Regions from separate parts of the Homo sapiens genome. Here region 2 is reported to be linked to region 1. Evidence: microRNA targets listed by miRTarBase, many of them from high-throughput screens and not tested one by one. Region 1 holds a microRNA gene; the other region holds the end of a gene's coding sequence.
What was found. Region 1 holds the annotated microRNA hsa-miR-23a-3p (AUCACAUUGCCAGGGAUUUCC, at 4,521-4,541, shown strand). A microRNA usually pairs through its seed, bases 2 to 8, with sites in the 3' UTR of a target mRNA and lowers its output. Matches are read on the target gene's strand: a 7mer-m8 pairs with bases 2 to 8, a 7mer-A1 pairs with bases 2 to 7 and ends in A, and an 8mer does both.

Region 2: miRTarBase lists POU4F2 as a target of hsa-miR-23a-3p. Seed matches in the 3' UTR shown: 8mer at 685-692, 8mer at 756-763 and 7mer-m8 at 1,046-1,052.

The regions. Positions count from the first base shown.
Region 1 is chr19:13,834,787-13,841,135 of GRCh38, reverse strand. It overlaps MIR23A (microRNA 23a), which reads left to right and starts at 4,477; the gene lies at 4,477-4,549. It overlaps MIR23AHG (miR-23a/27a/24-2 cluster host gene), which reads left to right. Exons shown (of 1, transcript NR_036515.2): 1 at 1-6,349. It overlaps MIR24-2 (microRNA 24-2), which reads left to right and starts at 4,777; the gene lies at 4,777-4,849. MIR27A (microRNA 27a) reads left to right here and starts at 4,619; the gene lies at 4,619-4,696. RefSeq lists a silencer at 1,215-1,444 and enhancers at 1,865-1,964, 2,185-2,404, 2,435-2,544.
Region 2 is chr4:146,640,226-146,644,900 of GRCh38, forward strand. It overlaps POU4F2 (POU class 4 homeobox 2), which reads left to right. Exons shown (of 2, transcript NM_004575.3): 2 at 1-2,249. The coding sequence ends at 583. Among named protein-coding and RNA genes, the nearest start is that of POU4F2, 3.7 kb to the left of the region's middle.

The DNA of each region.
Region 1 (6,349 bases):
CGCCCGATCTAGGTGGTGCTTTGATACCTCTTAAAGCATTTTTTGGAGTTTGCCCTTCACCTTGGAAAGCTGGGTGGGGGATTCTGTCCTCCATGAATAACGGCGCCAGGAACCTTGGGCGATCTTGAGAAAACTCCTTCCTGTAACCTCTGTTTTCCACGTTGGATGTGTTTTAGGCCACAGTCAGGCCTGGCTTTTTTTTTTTTTTTTTTTTAAGACTTATTCCATGACCTTAAGCCCCAGTCTGAATCTCTGAGCCTTAATTATTCTATCTATAAATGGGAAGCATTTGGAAATGGGACGGAGAGAAGTGTACACTTTGCCCCTGGCCGCCTTCTTCCCTCCTGGTGTCCTGGGTGGACACGGAGGTGTGTCTGGGGAAGGTGTGTCCTTTAGGGCCGGTCGCCTGGGAAGGATGTTGAGCGGAGGGCAGTGGGTGTGGGTGAGAATCCCTGGGCAGAGAAGGGCGCCGCCATGCTGGGCACGGCTGAGTCACGCTCCAGCGACGCCTTGCCCCAGGGTGCTGGAGCTGGCGCCACCCTGGGTGTGGTCACTGAGCTGTGGCCCTGGGCAGAGCAGGGCTGGGTGGTCTAGGATGTGGGGCCTCGGTGCCTGGGGAACTGACTTCGAAGATGCCAAGCCCCCTGGCCTCCCGCCTGGCCTAGGTTCTGGGGTCACCCTCCAGGACTGTGGTGGCCCACACCCTGAGAATGCCTTGGAGAGCCTAGAGGCCCTGAGCCTTGGGCCTGGGAATCGGTGCGTTGAGGGAGGTGGATAGGGCGCAGACACCAGTGACTGCATTCAAGGCCAGGGGACCCCCACAGCCAGGCCCTCACTGCAAAATGTACCTATGTGGGGAGAAGGCAGGGGTGGACCTGATGACGGGGTGTACCACTCTACTAAGGGTTCCCAACATGAAGGTGAGGGGGCCCCTGGGAATTCTGTGATTGGTCTGGGAAAGATTAAAGTCTAAGTGGGGGTTAGAGTGTGGACTGGCGGGACGCAATGGGGGCTGGGATGTCACTTTCATGGTTCCCCTATTTATAACAAGTGATTCAGCCCTCACTTACTCACCCCTTCCTGAGCCTCCCCCCACCCCAGCCCTGGGTGGGCAGCGGGGCCCACCCACTTGTCAGTGCCCTGACTTTCCCTACCCAGTGCCACCCTCTGAGGGCTGCCCATCGGGGCGGTTGTTATTGTCGCTGCACTGGGATTGGGGCAGAGGGGCGGGGGGCTCCTGGTCAGGCGGCGCTTGGCCGGGCAGCCCAGGTTGGCGGCTGGCTCGAGGCCCAGCCCACGGAGCTTCTGCTGAGAGTCTGGGCCCATTAGGCAAAGCGTTAGTGACAGGCTGGGAGGGCGGGTGGCGCGGCGGGCAGGGCGGGGCCTGCAGCCCTTGGTATTTTCCGATCCCAGCTGCTCTGTGAGGGTGGAAAGTATTTGGGGACCAGGCTTGGGGGCGGAGGTGGTGGTGGCGCCCCCGGCGGAAGCTGCCCCTGATTCATTCTTGGAGCATGGGGTTGGGGGGGTAGCGGTACACATACATACCCTTGTGTGTCTGGTCCACGCACACGCTGTCTGGAGGGGGTATTCAGGCATACCCACATGCATTGGCTGGCCGGGGTGTCCTGATGCAGCCTGGGGCCTGCTTTGCTCCCCAGCCCAGGGGCCCGCCCTCTCCCTCATGCCTCCAGCTGCTAGGAGCTTGGTTTCCCCCTGGACACCATCTCCCAAGAGCCTGAGAAGTGCACCATGATTGGTAAAGGGGACCCTGTCTCCTGGGCACCTGCATGGCAGCACCCCTTCCACTCAAGACCCAGACCTTTTGTGCCTGCGGGGATGGGGAGTGGCCTTGGCCCCGGCCCTGGGCTCTGTGCAGGGGAAACCCCACAGGAAACGAGCCTGGCCAAATGGCCGCCCTTCCCGTTCTCGTCCCTGGGACACGAATGTGCTGTCTCACTTCCGGAGGCGGCCCAGGGAGGCTGGCCGCCCTGCGGGGCCTCGCCTGCTCCCAGTTGGCGCCTCCAGACCCTAAGGGGACAGGGCTGGGCTGGGGCCTGATGGGAAAGAGTGGCTGGTATGTGTGTATGTGTGTATAGGGAGGGGACAAAACAGGACATCACTCGCCGCCTGTCTCGAAGTGGTGAGCGCCACCACATCGGGCGGACACTGGGGTCCTGGTGTGAGACACCCACGTTTCCGTTATCCTTTGCCTTGGCAAAGACAGCAGCAGCTCTGTCGTGATCATGTTTATCACTCATGGGGTCCTCACCATGACTTATGAAGTCCATACTTATTATCCCTGTTTTGCAGATGGGGAAGCTGAGGCCCAGAGAGGTTGAGTGACTTGCCCAGAGTCACCCAGCTCAGAAGCTGCAGAGCTGGGGCTTTCAAATCTGGGCAGACTTGGGCTCCAAAACTGGAGTCTGCTAGCCAGGTGTTGGGCTCTTATCAAAAGAAGCTCCACTCACTAAAGACTTAGGGCTGGCTTCATGCATTTGTGAAACGGGCAGTCTCACGGCAGCCCTGCTTGGAGGGACCTGGAGGTTAGTTTAATGTTGCACTGCTGGGGTCATGAATTTTTTTTTATTATTATTAATTTTTTTGTCTTGTATTGCCCAGGCTGGTCTCGAACTCCTGGCCCCAAGCGATCTTCCTGTCTTGGCCTCCCGAAGTGCCGGGATTATAGGGATGAGCCACCGCGCTCAGCCTGAAATTATTTTCTTTTTTTAAACTTGTTTTTGTTTATTTTAGAGATAGGGTCTTGCTCTGTCACTTAGGCTGGAGTTCAGTGGCATGGTCATAGATCACGGCAGCCTCAAACTCCTGGGCTCAAGCAGTCCTCCCACCTCAGCCGCCTGAGTAGCTGGGGCTACAGATGTGTACCACCACTCCTGGCTGATTTTTTAGTGAATTTTTTGTGGGCCAGACACTGTGGCTCAGGCCTGTAAGCCCAGCACTTTGGGAGGCTGAGGCAGGCGGATTGCTTGAGCCCAGGAGTTGGAGACCAGTCTGGGCAACATGGCAAAACCCCATCTCTACAAAAATTAGGGCCAGGTGTGGTGGCTCACGCCTGTAATCCCAGCACTTTGGAAAGCCGAGGTGGGCGGATCACCTGAGGTCAGGAGGTCGAGACCAGCCTGGCCAACATGGTGAAACCCCGTCTCTACTAAAAATACAAAACTTAACTGGGCGTGGTGGCGGGCACCTGTAATCCCAGCTACTCGGGAGGCTGAAGCAGGAGAATTGCTTGAACTCTGGAGGTGGAGGTTGCAGTGAACCGAGATCACGCCATTGCACTCCAGCCTGGGCGACAGGGCGAGACTCTGTCTCAAAAAAAAAAAAAAAGAAAAGAAAAAGAAAAAATTAGCCGGGCATGGTGGTGCATAGCTGTAGTCCCAGCTACCCCGGAGGCTAAGGTGGGAGGATCACTTGAACCTGGGAGGCTGAGGCTGCAGTGAGCTGTGATTGCACCCCTGCACTCTAGCCGTGGCGACAGAGTGAGACCCTGTCTCAAAAAAGAAAAAATATTTTTTTTTTTTGTAGAGATGGGGTATTGTCGTATTGCGCAGGCTGGTCTTGAACTCCTGGCCTCAGGTGACTCTCCTGCCTCGGCCTCCCAAAGTGCTGGGATTACAGGCGTGAGCCGCCATGCTTGGCCTGAAATTCTTAGTTTTCGAACTAGAGGACCACGTGTTCATTTTGCACCGGGTCCTGAAAATCCTGTATCTTGCCCTGGTGCTGGGCACTTACTGAGTGACATACATACTCGGTGACATCTCACTGGGCTATGCAAAAGAGGCTCTTGGCTCCATTTTACAGATGGGGAAACTGAAGCTTTGGAGAGTCTTTGGGAAACTGTGGAGCAAGGATTTGAACCTTGGGCTGTTTGGGTGGAGAGGCCTGTATCTTGGAGCTTGGATCCTGTGCTCTGGGGGGCGGGGGGTGCGTGTCTAGAAAGAGAGGGGGGTGCCTTGCTGCCGGCATCCGCCCTGGTGGGTGTGGGCTAAGCCCTGGCCACTGAGGAGACCGGGCCACGGGGGGGGAGGCCCTGGTGGTTTCCTCCTGCCCTCCAGGCTTCTAGGAAGTGGCGCCAGCTGGGGTGAGATCACTTCCTCACCCGCCTGCCTGGCCCCCCTTGGCTTCCTCTCCCCATGGCCCCATTTGGCCTGCCCAGGGCTCAATGAGGGGGGAGCTTGGCCATGCAAGTTGCTGTAGCCTCCTTGTCCCGCATGGGCCCTCTAGGTATCTCTGCCTCTCCAGTCCTGGGGCTGGAACGGAGGGCACAGCTAGGCTCCAGCTCCCCGTGTGGTGGCTCCTGCATATGAGAAAAGAGCTTCCCTGTGATCAAAGGAAGCATCTGGGGACCTGGAGGGGAGGTGTCCCCAAATCTCATTACCTCCTTTGCTCTCTCTCTCTTTCTCCCCTCCAGGTGCCAGCCTCTGGCCCCGCCCGGTGCCCCCCTCACCCCTGTGCCACGGCCGGCTGGGGTTCCTGGGGATGGGATTTGCTTCCTGTCACAAATCACATTGCCAGGGATTTCCAACCGACCCTGAGCTCTGCCACCGAGGATGCTGCCCGGGGACGGGGTGGCAGAGAGGCCCCGAAGCCTGTGCCTGGCCTGAGGAGCAGGGCTTAGCTGCTTGTGAGCAGGGTCCACACCAAGTCGTGTTCACAGTGGCTAAGTTCCGCCCCCCAGGCCCTCACCTCCTCTGGCCTTGCCGCCTGTCCCCTGCTGCCGCCTGTCTGCCTGCCATCCTGCTGCCTGGCCTCCCTGGGCTCTGCCTCCCGTGCCTACTGAGCTGAAACACAGTTGGTTTGTGTACACTGGCTCAGTTCAGCAGGAACAGGGGTCAAGCCCCCTTGGAGCCTGCAGCCCCTGCCTTCCCTGGGTGGGCTGATGCTTGGAGCAGAGATGAGGACTCAGAATCAGACCTGTGTCTGGAGGAGGGATGTGGTGGGTGGGGTTGGCTGGGCCCAAATGTGTGCTGCAGGCCCTGATCCCCAACTCTGCAACTGGGGACCCCTGCATGGCCACAGCTCAGGCTGGGCTGTGGTGCCAGCATAGATAGGTGGGTGAGTGGGTGGCCCTTCCATTAAAAGGGAAGCCAGCTGTGTCCTTTCCGGGCCTGGAGGCTTGGCCCCTCCTCTCCCAAGCCTGGCAGGGGCACTGGCCCGGCCCGCACCTTCCTAGCAGCCAGTTACCCAAGAGGAAGCTGCCTTGGGCCTCCAGACCGTTAAATGCCAACTCCTGGCTTCCGGTATCAGGCTGGGTTGACCTGACCTGGCCCCTTCTTGCTGGGCCCTGCAGCTTTCTAACTTGCCGGGAGGAGCAGTGACACCCGCCCCACATGTGGGGCATGGAACAAGTTCCTTGTGGACCCAGAAGGGACACAAGCAGGTGTGCTTAGTCCTGAGGCGCTGGGAATAGCTGATCCTCCCTGCCTTGAGGGGGTTCTCAGGGCAGGGAAGAGTTAGGACTCTGTTTTTTTTTTTTTGTTTTTTTTTTTTTGAGATGGAGTCTCGCACTGTCACCCGGGCTGGAGTGCAATGGCTCGATCTCGGCTCACTGCAACCTCCACCTCCCCAGTTCACACGATTCTCCTGCCTCAGCCTCCCAAGTAGCTGGGATTACAGGTGCACACCACCGCACCTGGCTAATTTTTGTATTTTTAGTAGAGACCGAGTTTCGCCATGTTGGCCAGGCTGGTCTCGAACTCTTGACCTCAGGTGATCTGCCCGCCTCAGCCACCCAAAGTGTTGGGATTACAGGCATGAGCCACTGCGCCCGGCCAATTTTTTTTTATGTTTTGTAGAGACGGGGTTTCGCCATGTTACCCAGACTGGTCTTGAACTCCTGACCTCAAGCAATCTGCTCGTCTTAGCCTCCCAAAGTGCTGGGATTACAGCTGTGAGCCACCGTGCCTGGCCTTTTATTGTTTGTTTTTGAGACGGAGTCTCACTCTGTTGCCCAGGCTGAAGTGCAGTGGTGTGATCTTGGCTCACTGCAACCTCTGCCTCCTGGGTTCAAGCGATTCTCCTGCCTCAGCCTCCTGAGTAGCTGGGCTTACAGGCACCCACCACCATGCCCGGCTAATCTTTGTATTTTTAGTAGAGACGGGGTTTCACCATCTTGGCCAGGCTGGTGTGATCATGGCTCATTGCAACCTTGAATTCCTGGGCACAAGTGATCCTCCTGCCTTAGCCTCCCCAGTAGAGCTGGGACTACAGGTATGCGCCACCACACCTGGCTAATTTTTTTAATTTTAATTTTTGTAGAGATGGGGGGGCAGGTCTCACTATGTTGCCCAGGCTGTTCTCGAACTCCTGGCCACAAGCCATCCTCCCACCT
Region 2 (4,675 bases), not on the chromosome of region 1:
GGCTCACGCGCCGCACATGGCCACCATGAACCCCATGCACCAAGCAGCGCTCAGCATGGCCCACGCGCACGGGCTGCCGTCGCACATGGGCTGCATGAGCGACGTGGACGCCGACCCGCGGGACCTGGAGGCATTCGCCGAGCGCTTCAAGCAGCGACGCATCAAGCTGGGGGTGACCCAGGCAGATGTGGGCTCCGCGCTGGCCAACCTCAAGATCCCCGGCGTGGGCTCGCTTAGCCAGAGCACCATCTGCAGGTTCGAGTCCCTCACACTGTCCCACAATAATATGATCGCGCTCAAACCCATCCTGCAGGCATGGCTCGAGGAGGCCGAGAAGTCCCACCGCGAGAAGCTCACCAAGCCTGAACTCTTCAATGGCGCGGAGAAGAAGCGCAAGCGCACGTCCATCGCTGCGCCAGAGAAGCGCTCGCTCGAAGCCTACTTTGCCATTCAGCCTCGGCCCTCCTCTGAAAAGATCGCCGCCATCGCGGAGAAGCTGGACCTGAAGAAAAACGTGGTGCGCGTCTGGTTCTGCAACCAGAGGCAGAAACAGAAAAGAATGAAATATTCCGCCGGCATTTAGAAGACTCTTGGCCTCTCCAGAGACGCCCCTTTCCTCGTCCGCTCTTTTCTCTCCTCTCTTCTGCCTCTTTTCACTTTTGGCGACTAGAAACAATTCCAGTAAATGTGAATCTCGACAAATCGAGGACTGAAGAGGGAGCGAACGAGCGAACAACTGAGCCCAAGCCGGTGAGAATGTGAAACAGTTTCTCAAAGGAAAGAATAACAAAAGATGGTATTTGTCTGTTGTAGCAAAGTTGTCCCTTTGAACCCCACCTCGGCTTCTTCAGAGGAAGTGTGGAGATGGCTGTTTGCAGGAAGGCAGACGAGACAGTGTTTAAAAAGTCCACAAGAATGATCAAGTAAGATTTGTTTTTATTCTTACAGACATCACCCGTGTTCAAGTTTAAAAGTACACTTTGCAACTATTTTTCAGAAATAGAAATTGATTCAGGACTAAAACTTTAAACTAGAGTTGATGCTTAATGTGATAGAGACATCTCTAAAGTATTTTGAATTTTAAAAAAAGATGGCAGATTTTCTGCATTTACACTGTATATTATATATATATTTTTATTGTGGTTCTTACCCCCTTTTCCTTCTCTGAAGTGTTAATGCTTAAGAAAAGAGTTGCGCCTGCTGTGTTCACTGATCTTGAAAGCTATTATTAGATTATTGCAGAACAACCCTCTGTAAATTATTAATTTATCTCTCTAGCAACTTAATTTTGTGCACATTCTAATTAATTAAACTTCTTCCGTCTAAAAAAAGTGGGGGAAATGTATAGCTAGTAACGTTCAAAAAATTTTGTTTGATGAGTTTACCGAATTTTTACAGCTTTCCTCCTATACTGTGTTCCTTTTGACCCATTTGTATATTCTCACTTGAATGAAGATTGTTTTTTTCTTTGTTTTTACTGGTAGTGTTCTGATTTGTGAGTCGACACTCAGTAATGGATGTCTTAATCGTGTAGACCTGATTCACTGTCTGAAGTATTGTTTACTTCGTTACATATTTAATGGGGATTCCCACATTGTCCCCATGACACATGAGCGCTCTCACTTACCCTTACACACACACACACACACACACACACCTCTAACAGAAGGGAAGAAGCAGTTGGAAGCATGACCGATGCACCATTTTCTAGTTTTAGGTGCATTTGCCACTTGGTGTTTGCCCTTCAGATTTTAGATTTCACCAAGGTATTTCAGTCTTCCAGTTTTCAATTGCTTTGTTGGCTACATGTTAATATTTATAGGAATACTTCAGTTTTTCCTTTTGGAGGTTTGTTTGTAGAAAAACTAATTTGAACTATAAGAAAGACAGTGCACTGCTTGTAAATTCACATTGTTTGGAAAAATTCTTTTGGAACAAAAAATTAGGTACATGATAACTGGTACCTTATCTACTGTAAATATTTCATTAAAAATGATGCACACATAGATATATTCTTACAAATTTTGCTGTATTGCTGTTCTCTTTGAGGCTCTCCAAAGTCTTGAGTTCTGTATATGGCCTGGTTTCTTGTTTTTATTAATAGATGGTTTATTTACTATGGTAATGTATTAATTTATTTTTGGTGTTGTTCGATTGTCTTTCATTGAAGAGATAATTTTAATGTTTTATTGGCAACGTATGCTGCTTTTTCATTAAAATATGCTATTAAAATTAAATGGCTTTTAAAATGTGATGTTGTTTTAATCATTTATGTGGGAAGTGTTTTGGTGGGAGACTTTTTTAAAGGAGGAAGCACATTTTGATGATTTATTAGGGAGTGGTTGTTATCAAAGTATAGCTTGGACTTAGTAAGGGCTGTTTCTATGGTAAAGTATTAAAGAACAAGGTTTATAACCGCCTTTTAATAGTGAGAACTCATCTCACAGGATACTTCACTTTTCTGCTCAGAAGAAATTATGATATTTGGCTCCAAATATCTCCCTTGGAGTTCTTCCTTCAGACTTGCAATAATCCTGCAAAAAAGAATCTTTATAAGCAGAGATATTGGATGGAAACAATTTCATGCATTCCCTCCCAACTATCAGGAGTAAAAGTAAGAAAGAAACTCAGCTCACTTTTCAGCAGCTCTAGGAGACTGGGTGTGGCAAGAGCCAAGGCCTGGTTGGAGGAGTACAGAACCCTGGTTGAGGCCCAGAAGCAAGCCCACCATAGCTTTCAGTTTGGTCACCACCACTGGAAAGCAAGGAACCCAGACAGAGCAGGAAGCACCTGAGTTGCTGGCTTAGGAAATAAGGCCTCTCTCTCTCTCTCTCTCTCTCTCTCTCTCTCTCTCTCTCTCTCTCTCTCCTCATTTCCCATGACCTTTAAGGAAACTCACATAGCAGAGTAGGGCTGAGGAAGAAATTCTGTGTAGTTAGGAGTAGCAAATTTTTGCCCTCTTCTGTGATTCACCCTGACATCAGAGTTGGTGGGAAGTCTGTCTGACACTGGTTTGGCACTGACACAGGAAAATTCGTCATGTTTGATGCAGTCATTTCTTCTTCTGATCCTAGCTTAAAGACATCTCTCCACTATTTTAATAATATTCAGACTCCCTACAACAGTTGGACAACATAATACCAGGTTTTCAAAGGTATTTTTTCCCTCAGTAAGTATCTGGTTTAGATATTTATGTTATTAATATCTCACACTATTAATTAATATGAGAATATCACGCTAATCTATAGCTCAAATGAGAGGAAGATCTAGGTCATTCTCCAGGAGTAATTCTATTAACCTGAGCTGTGACTCTTCTGATACAGAATTATCTTGAGATGTTTCTTATTTTGGAGACAAGATTAGGAAATATCCTATGAGTCAATGAAAGTCGTTACAGTGGCTCAAGTTGGGATTAAATGTTGTTGGAAATATCATAATTTCTGGAGGTAACAAAAAGAGTTGTGAAAGTTAGATGGAGAATGGGTGGAGGGACCTCTTTTTATTACTGAAAAAGGAAAGACACCTGAGGAAACAAAATCTAAGTGTCCATTACAAATAATGAGATGTTGCATAGGTGCCTAAGAAAACATTAAAACTTGTAGGAATTTAAAAGAAAAAATTGTGAGTTCAAGTATAGTAATATTGATGGTTTAGTTCTATTTCTGTCTTGAAGGCTGAAAGTTTCTTCTTCTGTCTCCCTTCGTATTCTTAGATTCGGTTTTCCTGAAAGTCTTTTCAAACAGCCAGCATATGCTGAGTTAAAGTCAGCTCGGTTCTATGCTGAGTACTAATTTCAGTACCATGGATAGTAACCGTAGAACTCAGCCCTACTCCAACTCACCTTTGACCAAAAAGTTTTTAGCTAGCTGGACAACCTTCGGCTTGCTTGCTTTCTCCAGAGTGGAGAAAATGAATAAAATGGCTTGAATGTAAAACAGATTCAGCTTCCTTATCTAGGATAAAAATGATCTTCAATAAATAACACCGTTCCCTTCTCATATGTGGATTTTTAGTGAAAGGGAGTTAGTTGGTGGGAAGTAAAACAGATGTGCTAGTGTCTTATTTCTACAAATATAGCATCTTTAAATGAAGATGAAAACACTGTAAAAGTAGTAGAAATTGAGAAACATATTGAACAGAAATAAAAAGGAGTTTTAAAAGTACTTTTGAAGTACATGACAGCTTGCATATGTGCATACATGCCTAAGATTTTTGCGAGAAAAGTGACATAACAACAACTATCCATATACTTCCATAGTTGAGAGTAAAGGCCTATATTTTCTCCTAATTCACCAGGTGTTCTTTGTCTCTCGTGTTCCTGGACTTTCAAAAGTACATCACATTTTGTTAATCTTTTCTGTGTTAGGGTAAGAGAAAACTTTCTTGTCTGCAAGATGGAAGTATTTTCATTCTTAGAGCAAGCTCAAATGTGTGTTGTATGGGAAAAGCTGAAAAGAAATATATTCTGAAGTTTTTACTAATGAGAGTTGCAGAGATACTAGAGATAATACCAAACCAAAGAGATTTGGAGAGAAGAGGGTTGGTCTTAAAGAAAAAATTAAAGGTAAGAATAGGCTGAACCATGTATAAATTGTTGAGAAATATCCATTTGGTGTTGACTTTCAAAATACTCAAATGGATAAGTAGTAGAATGTGTCTGAAAAGTCTTGTCATA